Regions from separate parts of the Homo sapiens genome. Here region 1 is linked to region 2. The links come from fine-mapping of genetic effects on gene expression. A gene starts in region 2. The other region holds a variant in brackets. All regions are shown on one strand. Distances are from middle to middle. Region 1 holds the start of LINC03040 (long intergenic non-protein coding RNA 3040). Region 2 holds the start of SCIRT (stem cell inhibitory RNA transcript).

What was found. PIP is the estimated chance that this variant, and not a neighbour inherited with it, causes the effect.
Region 1: its variant is fine-mapped to the expression of SCIRT in thyroid (GTEx, PIP above 0.99).

Annotation. Positions count from the first base shown.
Region 1 is chr6:43,996,660-44,005,767 of GRCh38, reverse strand. SCIRT (stem cell inhibitory RNA transcript) reads left to right here. Exons shown (of 5, transcript NR_125864.1): 2 at 4,652-4,725; 3 at 5,053-5,177; 4 at 6,260-6,550; 5 at 8,460-9,108. It overlaps LINC03040 (long intergenic non-protein coding RNA 3040), which reads right to left and starts at 5,183. Exons shown (of 3, transcript NR_160956.1): 1 at 5,068-5,183; 2 at 3,641-3,715; 3 at 1-3,087. It overlaps LOC124901321 (a long non-coding RNA gene), which reads right to left. Exons shown (of 2, transcript XR_007059591.1): 2 at 6,214-6,817. RefSeq lists enhancers at 555-1,186, 4,927-5,076 and a silencer at 2,835-3,004. The variant C/G (reference allele first, on the strand shown) is at 4,203.
Region 2 is chr6:44,070,274-44,079,381 of GRCh38, reverse strand. SCIRT (stem cell inhibitory RNA transcript) reads left to right here and starts at 4,730. Exons shown (of 5, transcript NR_125864.1): 1 at 4,730-4,885. RefSeq lists enhancers at 3,650-3,719, 4,840-5,099, 6,120-6,219, 6,260-6,319 and silencers at 5,610-5,869, 5,960-6,039.

The sequences.
Region 1 (9,108 bases), 74 kb after region 2:
AAGACCAGCCGAAATGTTCCTCTCAGGAGGTGGCAGGTGGGGGTGGAGTGCCAGGAAGGCACTGTCCAAAGAAGTGGGTTAAGGTCACAGCCTCCCGGCTCCCAAGGACCCCCTGAGAACAGTTGCTTTGGAAAGGTCACTCAGATGTGAACCAGAGGCTTGAGGTTTTGGAGTGGAAAGGGGCAGGGTAAGGAAGAATAGAGTAGGGGGAGGGCGGGGGACAGGGATTCATCCTCCAGGTTCCTCACACCCCCACTGGGAGCAGCGCCCCCCCCCCAAGCACCTGATTTCAAAGTCTCCCCTCCACTGAAGGGAGGGGCAGAGGGAGCTCATGACTGGCATGGAGGGGGCTGGGTGGCCCTGAGGTAATGACTGCTGGGGTGGGGAGGCTCTGAAGCAGGAACCTGAACTTTCTGTCTCAGAGTCTGCCCTGGCAGTCAGTGGCAGAAATGGCACAGTAGGGGGCTCTGTGGCACTCACTGTGTCTCCCCCAGTGCCCAGCTGGGGACTCAGGAAATGCTATTGAATAAATGGATTGTGTCCTCCCTCCCCCAGCACCCCCACAATCACCAGCCTCCTCCCTCTCCCTCCCCCTGTCCTTTAGAGTCTACAAGGACTGAGTTATTCTTAGTAAGTTTCATTCATCAAAGCGTGACAAATGGTGTCCTGGGAGGAATGCCTGGGCGCCATGGGGAGCCAGAGGGTGGGGTGGGGTGCAAATGTCCCATTTGAGGGGAGAGGCCATTGCCTTCAGGGAGCTCCAGATGGAGGGGGAGACAGCCCTGTCCTCATGGGAATCTGTCTGATGCAGAAGACACAAAGAACCTAGTCCCAGGGGAGACACAGTCCCTGTCCTTTGGGGGAGGCCCCAGTCTGAAGGGGGGAGACAGCCCTGCCCTCAGGGAGCTCCAGTCTGAGGGGAGATGCAGCCTCATCCTCAGGCAGCCCCAGTCTGAGGGGGACACAGCCCCATCTTCAGGGAGCTCCAGTCTGAGGGAGAAGCAGCCCTTTCTTCAGGGAGCCCCAGTCTGAGGGAGACACAGCCCCGTCCTCAGGGAGCCGCAGTCTGAGGGGAGACACAACGCTGTCCTGAGGGAGCCCCACTTTGAGGGAGACACGGCCCCATCTTCAGGGATTCCCAGTCTGAGGCAGACACAGCCCCGTCCTCAGGGAGCCCCAGTCTGAGGGGAGACACAGCCCTGACTCAGGGAGCCCCAGGCTGAGGGGAGACACAGCCCTGTCCTCAGGGAGCCCCAGTCGGAGGGGAGAAACAGCCCCATCCTCAGGGAGCCCCAGTCGGAGGGGAGAAACAGCCCCATCCTCAGGGAACCGTCAGTCTGAATCGGAGACACAGCCTTGCCCTCAGAGCGCTCCCTGTGATAGGAGATAATCCTCCCATATTCCCCCCTTCTCCAGCCCTTAGTGAAATCCCAGCCTGAAGGGAGAGATCCAATTTCCTGTTCTCAAGCAACCTCTAGTCTCATGGCAGAAAAATAGCTACCATCCCTGATGGAGAAGATAGGGTGCCACCCAAGTCACGGACTGAAACTCAAGATGACAAAAGGGAGTGCTGGAGGGGTATCCGGGAGCATGTGCAGCCACCACGGCCACTGCAAGTGGGGAGCCTGACGATGACAGAGAAGAGGGGGCTCCCAGAGACACTTGACTGGGCACCCTTACCAAGAAACATGCAGACCACAAAGGGGCAGCAATCATGGGGACTAAGATCCTGACGCTGAGGAAAAGGATGTAGGCACGGGCCCAGCGGGCCGGTCTAAATCAGAGGTCCACCTTCACTGGGAGGGCAGTCGGAGAACCCACATTGTCTGCAGACTCTCACATTCAACCTAAAACCCATGTACTCATTGCAAGCCAAACAAAACCTCACTGAAGGTAAAACGTGGCCCAAGGCCATGAGTTTGCAACACCCTGGACCTCAGGAAAGAATTGCTGATAGAGGAGAGCTCTGAGCCTGGTTTTGGGGGAAGGAGCTGATGGCCAAGCTACCCCTTTAATTCTGGCCTTCGGGCCTGGCTTCTATCTTCAGGGCCTCTCTCACCCTACCTGACATGGGAGGCCAGAGCCACCTCACTCCTCACCAGCTCCCCTATGGCGGCCACAGCTGGCCAGCAGGCGGGGCCTCCGTGTCTGTGGCGGGGATGTCACCTTTCTTCGCAGGAAGGTAATTTCCCCGCCAGGGGAGGGAGTCCGTCGTGCTGCTCATAAAGCCACTGTTAAACGAGCGGGTCTGGGAGTTCTGGCTGGGCGGACTTCCCTTCCCTTCTCCGTGCCTCAAGTGCCAAACGGGGGTACTGCTGCCCTGCGTGCCTTTGCCACTCCTCCCACTGAAGGCTAACTTTCCAATAGACCTCACTGTTTCTGTCAACGAAATAGGTCCCTGGCCCCTCCCCACTCTCCCAGTCTCTTCCAGCAGAGACCTTCCAGGACTGTAGGTTTAGGGGAGTGGAAGGGCCGGCTTCGGTCTCCCCAAGTTCTGCCCCCAGTGAGGCCTCATAGCTCTCCTGGGACTGAGGGGCAGTCCCAGAGGGCGGCAGGAGTTGGCAGCCAGTGGTCCTGGGGACCGCGAGGTGGGTGGGTGGAGGGTGGCGAAGGGAGGGTTCCGGGACCGGGGAGCGGCGTCTTAATTACGGCGCGTTGGCCCAGCGCCGCGGAGCGCCGCGGATGACAGCGGCGGTGGGTAATTAGAGCGCATTAGCCGTGCCCCTGCAATCCTGTAATTTCTTCTCGCGCTCGGGGTGTGTTGTAGGAGGCGAAGCGATGCCGGCTTGGCTGAGTCAGACTCTCGGAAGCCCAGGAGGGGACGCAGGGGGCGGCAGAGGCCGCGAAGAAGGGACTCCCGCCGGGGGAGGCGCAGACGCAGTCCTCTAGGAGTCACCTGTCCCGGGCTCCTCGGCGCGCGCGCCCCGTCGGCGGCGGGAGGTGGTGGGAAGGGGGCGTGACCTGCGTCTCCTCCCGCCGCCGCCGCCGCCGCCGCCGCCGCGCGCTCTACCGGCCCGCGAGTCCTCCGCGACATCCGGGCCAGCGTCTGCACCCAGCCACGTGTCCTGCCCCTGGTGCGCAGGTGGACTGGAAAAGAGGAAGGCAAACGCAGTGGCTAGGCGGAGACCTCCCAAATCCCACGTCTCCCCGAGAATCCCCGACGGGCTACAGACCTAGGGCAGCCATAAGAAAAAACGTCAGCTACATCTCGAGGGAGTGGGGTGGAGTGCGGGCGCTTGCTCTAGTCGAGCCCTGACATCGATTCTGCGGGGGCGGGGAGGAGTCGGCGCGGGGCTGGGGCTGGGAGGGGAGTTTATTTATTAGCCAGATTAGCCAGCATTAATGGGGGAGCGGTGGCGGCCGGCGGCAGCAGGGACATAGCTGGCATAGCTGGCATAGCGGCGGGGCCTCCTGCGGCGCGGGGCTCCGCGGCTTCAAAGGGGCTTAAAGAGGCCCTTGGTGGCACTGCCACGGCCCCGCGGGGGAGGGCGTGGGCGCGGGCGGCGGGGGAGAAGGCGGCCATTGTGCACCGAGGGATTAGGGCTCTGGCCTGGAAGGAATTTTAAACTGCCGCGAGCCGGAGCCCCAGGACTCTCCTCCTGCCCCACCCCTGCCCTCCGGAGCACGCTGAGGTGTTTACCTGCTTTCCTATGTCTGGGGTGGAGGGGGTGTCCTCTCTCCTCCCTCAAACTGGAGGCACCTAGGGTTACCAGATCTGGCAAATAAAAACACAAGACTTCCAGTTAAACTGGATACTTTAAATAGTGTAAGTCTGTCCCAAATATTGTATGGGACAGACTTATGCTAAAATATTATTCGTTGTTTATCTGATATTCAATTTAATTGGACGTCTTGTATTTTTTTTCCTGGCAGCCCTTGAGGCATTGAAATCTCTAATCCATGTCTGGAAACAGATTGATGGTTCCCGAAAGTCCAGTGGGTATGCCTCATTTGAGAGATCCCTAAGGGCAGGGTCGTGTCTCTCCCCTTACACTGGGAGTTTCCTGAAGCCCAGATACTGAGTTTCACCCTAAAGAAGGCAGCTCTGAGAGCACTATATGTGTCCCCCGTCAGACTGGGAGCTTCCTGAGGACAGGGGCTAAATTTCACCCATGAGAGTAACGCTTCAAGGTCAGTGTCTGTGACCTGTGACACTGGGGTTTCCTGAGGCATGGTCTGTCCGCTTCCTAGAGGGCAAGTCT[C/G]TCTCCTCCCTCACGTCTCACTCTCCCACCCCCACCCCACCCCAGGCTGCTGGAGGCTCCTCCTCCATTAGTGTTGCTTCCTGCCCATAGGGGGTGCTAGGGGCCCAGCGGACTGGCCTACGGATGGATGGGACCTGTTTATTGGGACTCGGGGCTTCAGTCCTTCGGGGTTGATGCACTTGAGAATAATGAGGGTGGGGTCCCCAACCTGTGAGGCTTGCTGAGGCAGTTGAGGGCCAGGTCTACTGGGGCCAGAGGCGGTGGCCAGCATGTGGGAGAAGCTCTGGGTGCTGGGTACCCACTGTTTCTTCCAGGAAGGGACAGTGTGGCCCTTGGTACAGAACATCCTGCCCACCTCCTCTCATAACCATTGAAGCCAAGCCCCAGTCCTCCACCAGCCTCTCCAGACCCCACTGCCTAACCTTTGCTTGTGCTGTTCTTTCTGCCAGAAACACTCTGTCTTCCTGCTTTGAGGACAGCTGAAGTCTTGCCACTTCTTCTGGATGCTCTGACCATCAGTAAGGTGGGCTGCTTGTGCCTGGGGGTCTTCTGGTGAAAAGAGCCCTCCATCTACTCCCTCCTTCCTCAACAACTTTGGCCACAGGGGCCAAAGAGGGGGCCAAGGTGGGGGAGGGGAGAGACAGGAACATTGGGGGAGCATAGGCAGAAGGGGAGTAAGAATAGGAACCTCCTTCCCCCCAACCCATCCCCCTGAAGCCCCTTCACAAGTCCCTTCATCCCCTCAGGGCCTCTGAACTCTTTCTCCTTGAAGCTGAGGGAAGCCCTGGAGAAGCGCTTTCCCACGGTCACAGCCTCAACAAACCCCTGCCCCCTTCTCCTTTGACTGCAGCCACCTCAGTCTCACCCTCCGCAGAATGCAGGCCCACTCCGTTGCTGAAGGGCCTCCTCCTTGGGCCAGGGCGCCTGCTTCTGCCAGTGGCATCATCACCCCACTCCTCAGCCGCCAGTCATCAGGTTGGCAATTAGCTACTTCCTCTCAGCTGCATGAGGCCACCAAACGTCACAGCCCCTCCCCTGGCCTGCCGCGGCGGGAGTGCTGGGGGCTGCCCCTACCCTTTGTAGTCAGTGCCAAGTCCTGGCTCAGTCCCCCTTCCCTACAACCTACTGAGTGCTAGGGTAATGAGCCTCCCATCTAGGGAGCTGAAAGCCTCGCTGCCTTCTCCCCGCTTCAAACCTCCTCCCCCATGTCACCCTATCCCATTGGGTGAGGACACTCCCGCTGCCTGGGTGGGGTGATGCCTGCTCAAGGGCACTAGCAGCCTGGGTGGGGCTTAAGACTCAGGTGTCTCTGTCCCCAGTCACAGGCGGTTTTCACCAGCCCCTTACCTGGGGCCCAGGAGTCTGAACTGAAGATGGTGGCAGTTATTTGGGAAGGGGAGAGAAATGGGGACTCATTCTACAGACCCCCAAACATGCAGGGGGCAGGCCCTTCATGAACACCCACATGGGCTCATTTGCCTGTGTCTAGGCACACACACGGTTACAATCTAGGCAATGTATGCTCCACTGCACTGTACCCACATGTGCCCCAGGTGGGCAAGTAAGCCCACTTGCCCAGATACCTCTCATGCCCACACATCCCTCCTCCAGGTGTGTGCATGCAAACTCACTGACATACAGTACTCAAAAAGGCAGTGAGCTTGCTGCCACACCAAAAACAAAACCGGGACCCTACAGAGGAATCTAGAAGCATGGGAGGGAAGGAGAGACCACCCCAACACTCGCTACCCCACAGACCAGGGAATCTTCCTGGGGAAGGATGGGAGGAAGTCTGCACTTCAGGGATATGTGTGGGGTACGCAGGTGGGCCGTGGTGGAAGCAGTTGTGTTGGAGTCTGGGTTGGGGGTGGAGGATGTGGATTTCCAGAGAGAATTGAAAAATTCCAACACATATAAACAAAGGCATGTGATCTTAGGCAGATCACTTAACTTCTTGGGGGCCCCAGTGACTGCATCTGTAAAATGGGAATAATGAGAACACCATTTAAACTTGGTTGTCAAATTTATTTTATTTTTATTTATTTATTTATTTTTAGAGACACGGTCTGACTTTGTTACCCCGGCTGGAGTGCAGTGGTGCAATCATGGCTCACTGCAGCCTTAACCTCCTGGGCTCAAGTGATCCTCTCGCCAAGGCTAGGATAAGTAGCTAGGACTACAGATGCGCCCCATCACGCCCAGCTAATTTTACAACTTCTGTAGAGATGGAGTGTTGCTGGGTTGCCCAGGCTGGTCTTGAATTCCTGGGCTCAAGCGATCCTCCTGTGTCCGGAATTGGTGGGTTCTTGGTCTCACTGACTTCAAGAATGAAGCCGCGGACCCTCGCGGTGAGTGTTACAGTTCTTAAAGACAGCGTGTCCAGAGTTTGTTCCTTCTGATGTTCAGATGTGTTCAGAGTTTCTTCCTTCTGGTGGGTTCGTGGTCTCGCTGGCTTAGGGGTGAAGCTGCAGACCTTCGCGGTGAGTGTTACAGTTCTTAGGGCGGCGCGTCTGGAGTTGTCTGTTCCTCCCGGTGGGCTCGTAGTCTCGCTGGCTTCAGGAGTGAAGCTGCAGACCTTCGCGGTGAGTGTTACAGCTCATAAAGGCAGCGTGGACCTACAGAGTGAGCAGTAGCAAGATTTATTGCAAAGAGCAAAAGAACAAAGCTTCCACAGCGTGGAAAGGGATCCCAGCGGGTTGCCACTGCGGGCTGGGGCAGCCTGCTTTTATTCTCTTATCTGGCCCCACCCACATCCTGCTGATTGGTAGAGCCCAGTGGTCTGTTTTGACAGGGTGCTGATTGGTGCGTTTACAATCCGAGCTAGACACAAAGGTTCACCATGTCCCCACTAGATTAGCTAGATACAGAGTGTTGACACAAAGGTTCTCCAAGTCCCCACCAGAGTAGCTAGATACAGTGTCGATTGGTGCATTCACAGTGCTGATTGGTGTGTTTACAAACCTTGAGCTAGATACAGAGTGCCAATTGGTGTATTTACAATCCCTGAGCTAGACATAAAGGTTCTCCACGTCCCCACCAGACTCAGGAGCCCAGCTGGCTACACCCAGTGGATCCTGCACCAGGGCTGCAGGTGGAGCTGCCTGCCAGTCCGGCGCTGTGCGCCCGCACTCCTCAGCCCTTGGGTGGTGGATGGGACTGGGCGCCATGGAGCAGGGGGTGGCGCTCGTCGGGGAGGCTCTGGCCGCACAGGAGCCCACGGAGCCAGGAGGAGTCTCAGGCATGGCAGGCTGCAGGTCCCGAGCCCTGCCCCGCGGGAAGGCAGCTAAGGCCCGGGGAGAAATTGAGCACAGCAGCTGCTGGCCCAGGTGCTAAGCCCCTCACTGCCCAGGGCCGGTGGGGCCTGGCGGGCTGCTCCGAGTGCGGGGTCTGCCGAGCCCACGCCCACCCGGAACTTGCGCTGGCCCGCAAGCACCGCGCGCAGCCCCGGTTCCCGCCCGCCCCTCTCCCTCCACACTTCCTCGCAAGCTGAGGGAGCCGGCTCCGGCCTTGGCCAGCCCAGAAAGGGGCTTCCACAGTGCAGCGGCGGGCTGAAGGGCTCCTCAAGTGTGGCCAAAGTGGGAGCCCAGGCAGAGGAGGCGCCGAGAGTGAGCGAGGGCTGTGAGGACTGCCAGCACCCTGTCACCTCTCACTCCCCCAAAATACTGGGCTTATAGGCAAAAGCCACCACACCTGGCCTGATTGTGAAATTTAAATGAGATAACCCGGCTCAGAGCAGGCCCTGAGTTGACATTACTATGAGGAGACCTTCCCAATATCCTGTCGCTTGATGGTGGGCTTGCCTAAGAGAGCTGCCCTAGGGAGATAAGAAGCCCTCATTCTGGACCTTACCTGACTGCTACATGCTCCCCCCGTTTTTCTTTGATTTCTGGGGTCCAGCCCCAGCCAAGGTGCAAGATACAAGTTGAGAGGCATGGCAGGGCATAGGGATGGGTGATTGGGTGCTACTTTGGACTAGGCTGGGGGTGGGTCTAGGGAAGGACTGGCTACCTGCCCCGCCCCTACCTGGCTGGCACAACAGGTAACTGAGTGCTGACTTTTATTCCTGGGAAGGGAGGAGTCAGGCAGTGCCTCTCTGTCCAGGCAAATGGGATGCAAGGGTCAGGAGCATGGGTGGAGAGGGTTTCTAGGAATATTCCTGAAAGAAGACCTGGGAACAGGCACTGCTGTCAGGAGCTACTGCCTGGGCCTACCAGCCTGTATCCCAGCTCAACAAACATCCTTGTCCTTGTTTCTCAGAGTCTGTATCCACCAGCTACTCTTCCAGATTCATGAGGCAAGGCCTGCCTGCTCACCTGGCTGGCCCCAAGCACCTCTTCAACCTGTTGCCACCGTCCTGCCTTGCTGCCCTTCTCAGCTCATCCAGCAGGGTCTCCAAGTCGTGGAAACAGAAGCACATATACACACATGCTCATATGTACATGCCCACAGTCACATAAGCACACCGAGAAACACCATCGCAGACATGTTCTCACAAGCACATGTGCATAACACTCACTACCCCTCACGCGTATACACATTAATACACACACTCATGCACACTCAGTCTTACACACACAGACACACAGCCATAATCACTGTTGTTGGTTGAATTGTGCCCCCCCATCCCCACCAAAAAGATAAGTTGGAGTCCTAACCCCCAGTACCTGGGGATGTGACCGTAGTTGGAAATAGGGTGTTTGTAGATGTAATCAAATTAAGATGAGATCTTACTGGATTAGAGTGGGCCTTAAATCCAGTGACTGGTGTCCTTATAAGGAGAAAAAGATTTGAAAACAGAGACATGGAGACACAGAGCAGAAGGCCATGTGATGATGGAGTCAGAGATTGGAGTGATGCAGCTATGAGCCGAGAAATACCAAGGTGCTGGCAGCCCCCAGAAGCAAGG
Region 2 (9,108 bases):
GCGGTGACAATGGTCAGGATTCTGCAGTTATATGAATGGCCACCAGGAGTCACCCTCAGCTCATGCTTGAAGTGAAGGCAGCACAGAAAAAGGGAAAGGAGCTGTAAGGGAGAAAAGGAGGAGGACACCCCACCACAGAGTGGATGAGCCTGGAGGGGACCCAAGGCTGCCAGAGTGGCTGCTTCATTTCTGCAGGAAGGTGCAGGACAGAACTCAGACTGGTGGGCACCGTGCCAGCAGGCAGAGGAGGGAGCAAAGGCTCATTTGTCTGCCTTCGGAATTCTCCTTCCCATGCTGATGTCAAATCACAATTCAACAGATTCTTCATGGGGCACCTGCTGCACACAGAGGGACAGGAATCTTACTGAACACCTAGTATATGCCAGAGCCTACACACACAGTGGGCTACTCAACATTCACAACAACTCTGTACAGTAAGTACAAATATTGGTCCCAAGATACAGATTGGGAAACTGAGGCTTATACCAGTTATGTGTTGTGCCCAAGGTCACCAAGCTGGATGAGGACTGACGCCTGTCTGGAGCCTAAATTCTTTCTCCTACACCAGATTGACTTCCAGAGAGTTCTAGGATACAAAGCTGGCAACAGACTTTCTGCCACGTAGAGGGATATGGCAGGTGACAACCCTGTCTGGCTCTGCTAATCAGGATCCAGTAAGAAGCTCAAGACAGGTGGCCACTCTGCTGGTAGGCAGAGGAGGGAGCTGTGCTCCCTGGGGTGGGTAGAAGTAAGGTTTGTGTGGGTGCTGGGTGTTGGACACGGGCAGGCTGCAGACATAGCAGCAATGAGGGGAGACTCTCTCAACCTGCCCATGTCCTCCTCTGAGCAATCTCCCCGCCCCAGAATTATTTCAGTTTCCTCATCTGTCAGTTCTAGGGGTGGACTTCATTCATTCAATACTGTGTCCCTGACCTCTGCTCCCTGCCAGGCTCTGAACTAGTCATGTGTCAGGCTGGATACTTAGATGGACAAGACAAGCCATCCCCTGCCCACAGCTGCCCCACCTGAAGTCTAGGCCAGTGACCTCCGAAGTTTTTTTGATCATGTGCCCTTAGCAATAAAAAAGATTGTTGAGTACGCACCCGTCAGATGAGTATGTTTTTATATAGTTTACCTTGTAAAACACACTCACACTAAATGAAAAAAGGATTCGATGAAAAATAAATAGGCATTCTAAAACTTTCTTCCAGTACCCCTGAACCACGCACACATATGGCACTTGGAACCCAACTGCTCCAGGAGCTGGGAGGGTAGGGTCAGTCCAGCCATACTCAGGACGGATGTGTGGTCAGTGTTCCAGAACATCCTTGCCCACCCCTTTATGCCCTAGCAAAGGAAGGGAGAAACTTCAGATACAGCAGGTGGGAGTGTGGGCAGATGGGAAGCGTAAGCAGGTTTATGTCTGAGGAGGCAGACAAGAGGCAGGTTTTTATTTTAGACTGTGATGTTGAAAATTTTGTGATCACTTTTTACACTGTCCCAGGACATACAGAACCAAGACATAGTGTCCCAAGTAGTATCTAATTTCATATACTTTAGGTAGTTCTATTCCATTTCCAAAGGTTTAGAATACCGCCCCACCTCAACCCCCAGGAAACTGGGGAGCACTCCCTCCACTACACACACTTGGGACACGAAGGACAGACCCTGGTTGGGGAGGCACTTAGGTGTCCCTTCCTTAGGGGCTTTATCTCTCACTTCCCCTCCTGGGTTGGAGGCTCCTGTGACCCCCTCGCCTGGGCAGGTCCCCATGCAGGGTAGAGCACTTGGAGGCCTCTGTAAACATGGGTTACAGGAGAGAGGGGGCAAGAGGCCACAGCTGGGGTACATAAGGAAACCCCTCTGTGGGCCCCCTTACTCAGAGAAGTCTCAGGAGAAACCCTTTCCCCCACCCCCAGTCCTGGCACCAAGCTGGAGAAAGACAAAATGGCTTGTGAAGGCATCTGTCTGCCCTCCAGGGTGGCTGCCAGGGGGGCAGCCATGATGGCTGGCCTGGTGTGGGTGCCTTTGTGTGCCATGACTGGGTGTCTGTTTCTGCAGTCACTAGGCGCTTGTTCTGTGGGGTGAGGGGTGTGGGGGTGGGGGCACGGCCTATGGCAGGGCACGTACGTGAGGCTGGGCACGAAAAGCCTCACCCACCTCCTGCCAGGTACAACCAGCTGCTGGGGCCAACTGCCGACCGCCTCCTCCCTTCCCTGGGCACGGCCAGGCCGGGGGGCAAATGACTTGGCAGGCACCTCCCCTCAGTTGGACCCACTAGGGCAGGGCCGGCTCACCTGGGGCACAGGCAGGGCTCCTGGCTGGGTGGGTGTTCTGCCAATCCCTTCCCCAACTCCTAAAGTGGGAGGGTGGTGGTGAGGCCAGGGAAGGGGCGCAGGTCAGAGATATGCCCCCTCTCCTCTCCCAGACTGTGCATGGGTAAAGCAGGGCAGAGAGGGGCTGGTGGAGGGGCGGGAAGTTTCTCTGTTTAGGGCCAGGAAATGATTTCCATGCAAATGAGATGCAAACTCCTTAATGAGTTTGCAATTAGGAGACCAAGGCTGCCAGGCCGGGCAGCGCCTGCAGGTTTTATGAATGGGCCAGCGTAGGCGGGGGGGAGGGGGCGCGCCGGCCCGCCCCCACATTTCCCTGCCGCGGCGCCCGCGACATGCCGCGCCGCACGTTGCTGCCTCCAGGCCCCGCCGCGACCTGGCCCACCGCCAGCGGGTCAGCTGCTCCGGACGGCGCGGGAGGCTGCCGGCCAGAGTCCCCGCCACGCCGCCGGCCGGCGACGCAAAGGAGCCGACGACACTCCCCCTGGGGCCCGGCAGGGGCTCTGTCCTCGGGCCCCCTTTTTTCCCGGTTATTGGAATGATTTCCCGAAGCAGGAAGGCCAGAAGTTAGCCTTCAGGCCCCGTTGTATTTAAAATGGGCTGCCCTGGGACTTCACTGACCAAAGGAGGGGGCTGGGCCCCTAACTTGGGTGACAGCAATGACCTTGGGAGGGATGGAATTATACGTGACAGGAGAGGGACCAGTTCCCATCCCAGAGCTCCTTGCACCTCTCCAATTCCCTCATGCCAGTCCACACCTCCCTAACCTCAAAAGGCCTGTTCCCACCACCCCAGGGCACCTGCTTTTTCTGCAGAGCCACCCTAGTCCACTTTGGGTCTTGCTCTGACCTGGGGCCCAGGAGAGGGTCTCCTAAGTGGGTGGGTACACACAGGTTTGCTGTGGTCCAGAAGGAGGCTGACCAGAGTTTGAGAGTTTGAGCCCAGTTAGGTCACAGCCCCCTACCTCCTCCCCTCCCCTCTCCTCCCCCTGTCCCCGCCCTGCCCCATTGCTTTCAGAGTAAATTAACTAATTACCTCCAATTAAAGCACCTGGCTCTCTGTATCCTCCTAGGCCTTCAATCACTGCTTCTGGGAGTCCTCTTCATCCAGGCAGGGTCTGGAAGGGGGCCTGACCAGTAAGTTGGAAGTCAGTGAATCAATGAAGTGGGGCGGGGAAGACAGGATGGAGGAAGCCCACAGTGCCATTTACTGCTTGGGAGTGGTCCAGGCAGCCAGGACCTCTGACTTGGCCAGCTTGCAGACTGAGGTTGGGTCTGGGGACTTGGGCCCTAGGGGGGCCTGTGAAGGCTGGGAGCAGGAGCTGCCTTTGGAGGTTAAGTCCCTGGTGAAGGGCCTGTGCAGATGTGTGCAGATGTCAAGGCCCTGAGGGTGACCCTAGAAGCCCCTCAGCAGGAGAAGCAACTTGAGGGTCAGGTCCTAGAAGCTAGCAGTTCTTGGCACCTGCTGCCTCCCTCACCCAGCAGGCAGGGAGAGACTCCAAATGCCTGTAGGCCCAACCAGTCCCTCCTGTCTTTAACCCCAGCTGGCTCCTCCTGCTGCTCAGGAAGTGAAAACCCCTCCATTCTTTTCTCCGGGCCCCCTTGGTGGCCCCCAGGCACAGGCCCAACACTAGCTCTGCCCAGCACTGTCCTGGCCCACCCCACGTGTAGGACGTGATGGGGAGGATACCTGGTGGCAGGAGGCAGACTGATGGATTGTTGACCTGGGTCTCACCTCTGGACGAGCTGGCCATTCCTGGGGACTGGGCAGGGTCACGCCAGGCTGTGACTCAGGCCCCTGCCCCACCATGCCAGGGACCTGGGCTTGGGCCATCCTCTGTGTATGTGGGGTGGGGTGGAGCAGAGGTTTGTCAATTGGAGGCTTCTCTTTGGGGACACCTCTCACAGCCCCAGGGAGCCAGACTATGACTAGAAGGATCAGGGTTTCCATGGCTGCTCCTCCCCACCCACCACCCCAATAGAGGCTGACAGGAAGGACTCCCAAGCAGGGCACAGCAGCCATATGAGTTAGTGGGTGTATGAGCCATCCAGGACAGGGGTAGGGCTCAGCACACAGGAAGGGCCACTCCTGGGGTGTCCTGAGCCCCTATCTGCCAGCTCGGCTTGTCTCCCTAGGCCCATGGAAAGCTGGCTCAAAACTCCCCACCTCCAGGAAGGCGTCACCATGCCTCGCTTGTTTGTGGCCAGCCCAGCGCTGCTCTCAGCTCCCACTTTTCACTTGTTTCTCTGCCTCTTGTCCCCTTTCCCAGATCCACCAAGCGTCTATGGGCAGACTGTTTTTTCCTGCACTTCCTAGTGGCCAGCAGAGGGCGCCGCCAAAAGACTGAGGCCACCACGGAGGGAACAGGAGAATCGGCTTTTTGGGGTCTAGCCACTGTGCAGAGCCCAGGCGCGTGGGTCGGTGTCGGGTGTGTGTGTACGTCTGTGTGTGTAATGAAACTGGACGCCTTCCTTCCCGGCGATCTTGACTTAACCTGTCAGCAGAGGGCTTGAGGTTAGACCACAGGTTGAACCTAGGTGGCTGCTGGAGAGGTAAGCCCAGGTGGCTCTTGGCAGGAAGAGGAGGATGAGTGAGTTGCTCCCTTCTAGCAACCCAAATGGGAAGGGACAACGGAGGTTGCCAGCTTTCCTCCCTGACCCTGGAAGAAGGGTTGGGAGGGGTTGCACAGAATAGCTGGTGTCCCACCCTGTGGGAGGAACTGCTATGGACATCTGGGCCACATCTGGTTTCCTGGCAAGGCAGGGAGCTGGTCTGTTTGGAATTCTTGGTCCACCGCTTGGTGGTCCCTCACCATTACATTCTAGGAGGACCCTTTACAAACAGGTGTATAGGGCGCAGCCCTGTAATGCGAGTGAGTCCACAGCAACCTAGTCGTGGTCACACTCCTTTGGAAGTGGCCCTAGGGGCCTGGGCAGCAGCCTGCTCCTCTGCGCCACTCGACCTTTCTGTGGCCATGTTGGAGTCTGCATGCTGAGATGCTGCCCTTTCCCCTTGGAAATGCTGGGAAATGTGCTCTGGTGTCCATCCTGGCCATGCCTCTTCCTCCAGGTGGGGTAAGAGATGAAAAGAGGAGTTAGTCTGCAGTACCTCTTAGGGACCCCACCCCATGAAAGGCGGAGTGGGGAAGTGCTTGCTGTTGGGTCACCTCCACGAAAGCTTGGGAATGCGGTTGGGACGGGTAGCGGGAGGAGGGGTCAGCAGGAGTGGTTCTTTCTTGGGTCTGGATTCTGGGTTTTGGGGACGAGACAACACGGAGGAAACCCCTCTTGGTCGGCTTGGTTCCAGGAGGCTCAGGCCGGGAGATGGCCGTAATGGCCTCGCAGAAAGAAGCGGGAGCGGGGGAGGGGGAAGGCTGAGCATCGAGCCCACCCGGACTCTCCCTCTGTCCTCCCCGCTGCGGGGGCCCACCCCTTCGCCCCCACCCCTCTATCTCCAGGGCCGCCGCGGCCCCTCCCCGAGACCTGGGCGCCGCCTCCCCCTCCCCTCCTCCTCCCCCTCCCACCCAGCGCTGCAGCTGCTGCCGACGGACCATTCTGCACGTAGCGAATGGAGGAGACGCACAAGGGAGGCCTCAAGTGCGCGCGCGCGGGAGCCGGAGCGGCGCGGGCGGGGGAGCGGCTGCGGGCGCGCGTGCGCGTGCGGCGCCGGCTTTGATCGCGCGCGCCGAGCTCCGGAGCGCGCTGCTCTTCTGAGCGCCGGGGTTGGGGATGCTGGGCGGTGAGCCTCCGTACCCTCTCCACTCCGCGCACGCTCTGTTACCCCTCCAGCAAACCCCGCCTCCAGCCAGGACCCTTTTCAGTTGCCACCCCAATAGTACTGTCCTCTGCGCGTAGTAGGGTCTTCTGTTACGGTGTGCCGGGTGACGGATTGTACAGTCAGCCAGGTCCTGGGCTAGGGTTTCACAGAGTTCAGAACATGCCCGTGTTCATGACCATATAGTTTCACTTTTGCCCCAGGATCTCTCAGCCTGGAGGCCCTCACCCGCCTGCCTCTGCTGCACCTCAAACCTAGGCAAGCCCCATAAAGCCCCTTATAAGGGCTTGGGAAGAAAAAACAAAGGAGTGCTTTGACTTTTATTTCCTCTGGGATGGGGAACTCCCAAGGGAGTTCATTTCCCTTTCACCCCCTCCTATGTTACCTGCACAGCTCCTACTCCCTGGGGTGTCCAGGACTCTGCTGGGCCCTGCCCACACCACTGACAAAGGTGTGGTATGGTAAGCACAGAGTCTGCGTCCTGGGACAACCCAGGGAGTACAGGGAGGCTGTGTCAGGCTATGGCAGGCAGGGCCTTCATCTTGGAGGTGTCTCCTGACTTCCAGGGGCACTCTCTTCACTTCCTGAATCCCTGATCAGGAAGGGGATTGGCAAGTGGCTGGCCTGCCACCTGGGCCACTGGCAAGTGGGTGGCCGGGGGGGGGGGGCTGTCTTCCTTCCCTGGATGGGCTACGTTGGCACCTCATTCCACCTTCCTCACTGTGCATCCTGGCTCTCCTGGCTAGGTGGGCATTGGGCAAGACAGGTGACAGGGCCTTGCAAAGGGATGTCTGAATAGGGTCGGTGGTGTTTTGAACCTCCCTGTGGGAGTGAACTGAAGGGGACTGGTCTGTGGAATGTGCAGGTGGAGGTAGCTGAGAGCTCTTTGTCACGTACTAACTTAAACTGGCCCCAGTTGTTTGACCCCTCTGAGCCTCAGTTTTCTGTGTAATGGGAGTACAGCATTCACCCAGCGGGGCTGTTGAGGATTAAAATATAATCTGCCTATAACATGCCTCATATGTTGGAGGCATGTATGAGGTAAACCTTTTTTTATTATTGTGTTTGAACTGGCTGAAAGTCTGGGGACATTTCCCTCAGCTTTGTTTCCATGGATAGAGTGAATTCAAATCCCGGAGCTGGCAGCTCCTTGGAATTTGAAGGTGGGCTTTGAGAAAACTGTAAAGAGGCCAGTAACATGTCATGTTTATGTCACCATCCAAGAATGAACCATTTCATACTAGTTTTCCAGACATTAATATCTGAAACCTTAAAAAGAGATATTTTGGATAGGAATCACTAGTGGATATTACACGCTTTCCGGGCTTTTAATCAGAGGTTACAGAACATGTGAGTCTTCATGACTCAGGGTTGTGGTTACAAGGGTCCATCAGTATCCTGGTTGTAATACAGTGAAAATCCAAGGCCTTTTTTGGCCCCACACCAACGGCTCATTCCATGAAGGCTACATTTTCGTAGTTCTTGTGTCTACTTTTATAGTACTTTATCACTTCATCAACTCTCTCCGTATAAACTATCACTTCTGTTACCATCACTTTGCCTGCCTCCAGGGCAGACCACCAAACCCACCCTATTCTCAACTTGTTTCTGTTTGGCTGTGGGCTGAGATGTCCGAAAATCACATCTGTTGGAAGATGTGAAAAACAACGAGATCTTTTGAACTTGACAAATTATATTAAAGTTCATCTGGAGAAATAAACATGCAAAAAGAGCTTGGAAAATCCTGAAAAAGAAGTATTATAAGGGACGACTAGTGCTACTAAAATGTTGTAGAAAGCTCCAATAATAAAATAGTTGGGTACTGGCACAAGAACAGACAGGCAGATCAAAGGAGCAGAGTAGAGGCCAGACACACACCCGTGAACAAATGGAAATTAAATATATGATAAAATGACATTTTAGATCAGAGGAGAAAAGATGAATTATTCAATCAAATTGGACAACTGGTTAGCTGTTAAGGGGGAAAAAAAAGAAATCCAGCTCCCCACTTCATCTCTTATTCTGAAATAAATCCCGATGGAGTGAAGATTTAAATGTAAAAAGGAAACCATAAAATTACTAGAAGAAAACATCTGAAAGTCTAAAAGTGTATGTTCTTGGATTGGGGAAAGTTTGACACAAAACCTAGGAGTCACAAAGGGAAAGAATTTTTTAAAATTGGCTGTATTAAAATATGACGTAGGGTGTTGTGTTACATGCCTGTAGTCCCAGCTCCTTGGGAGGCTGAGGTGGGAGGATAACTTGAGCCCAGGAATTTGAGGCCAGCCTGGGCACCACAGTGAGACTCCATCTCTGAAAAAAAAATGTGTTTTTAATGTAATATCCTGAATTCTAAAGACAACCGTCTGGAAAAAATATTTTTAACATAGATGACCGATGAGTTTTTACAAGTCAATAAGGAAAATAAAAACGAATAGAAAAATGGGCAAAGCACATAAACCGGTAAGGGGATACTAATGGTTAACAAGCAGGTGAAAATGCTCACCCTCAGTCAAAATAGAAGAAATCAAAATGAAGACATGAGAAGATTCTCTTTTCGCCAATTTGATTGACAACAACTAAAATGGGCAACCCCTCACTGTGTGGACACAGACATCCTCAGAGCTGGGGGGGAGGACAGTTGCACCTGTGAAGGGGATTGGCAGTATACATGAGAAGAATTAATTCACAAACCATGGACTCGAGGGTTCCATATCTAGGAATTTATCAGATGCACTGTTATAAATGTCACAAGTGTTCAAAGTATACATACAAGTGTGTTCATTGCAGTTTTGCTTCCAAACCTGAAAAACTGGAAGCAACATTAAGTCCATTAATAGGGCACGGATTGGATATGTTATGATGCCTCCAAACACCAATAGTATGCAGTGGTTGAAAAGAGTGAGGTTGAGGTTGTGTGTTGATATTCACTAAGTAGAAAAGCAAGTGGCAAGACATTCCTTGGGTGGTGCTACTCCATGAAGGGTGTGCCCTCTGCCAG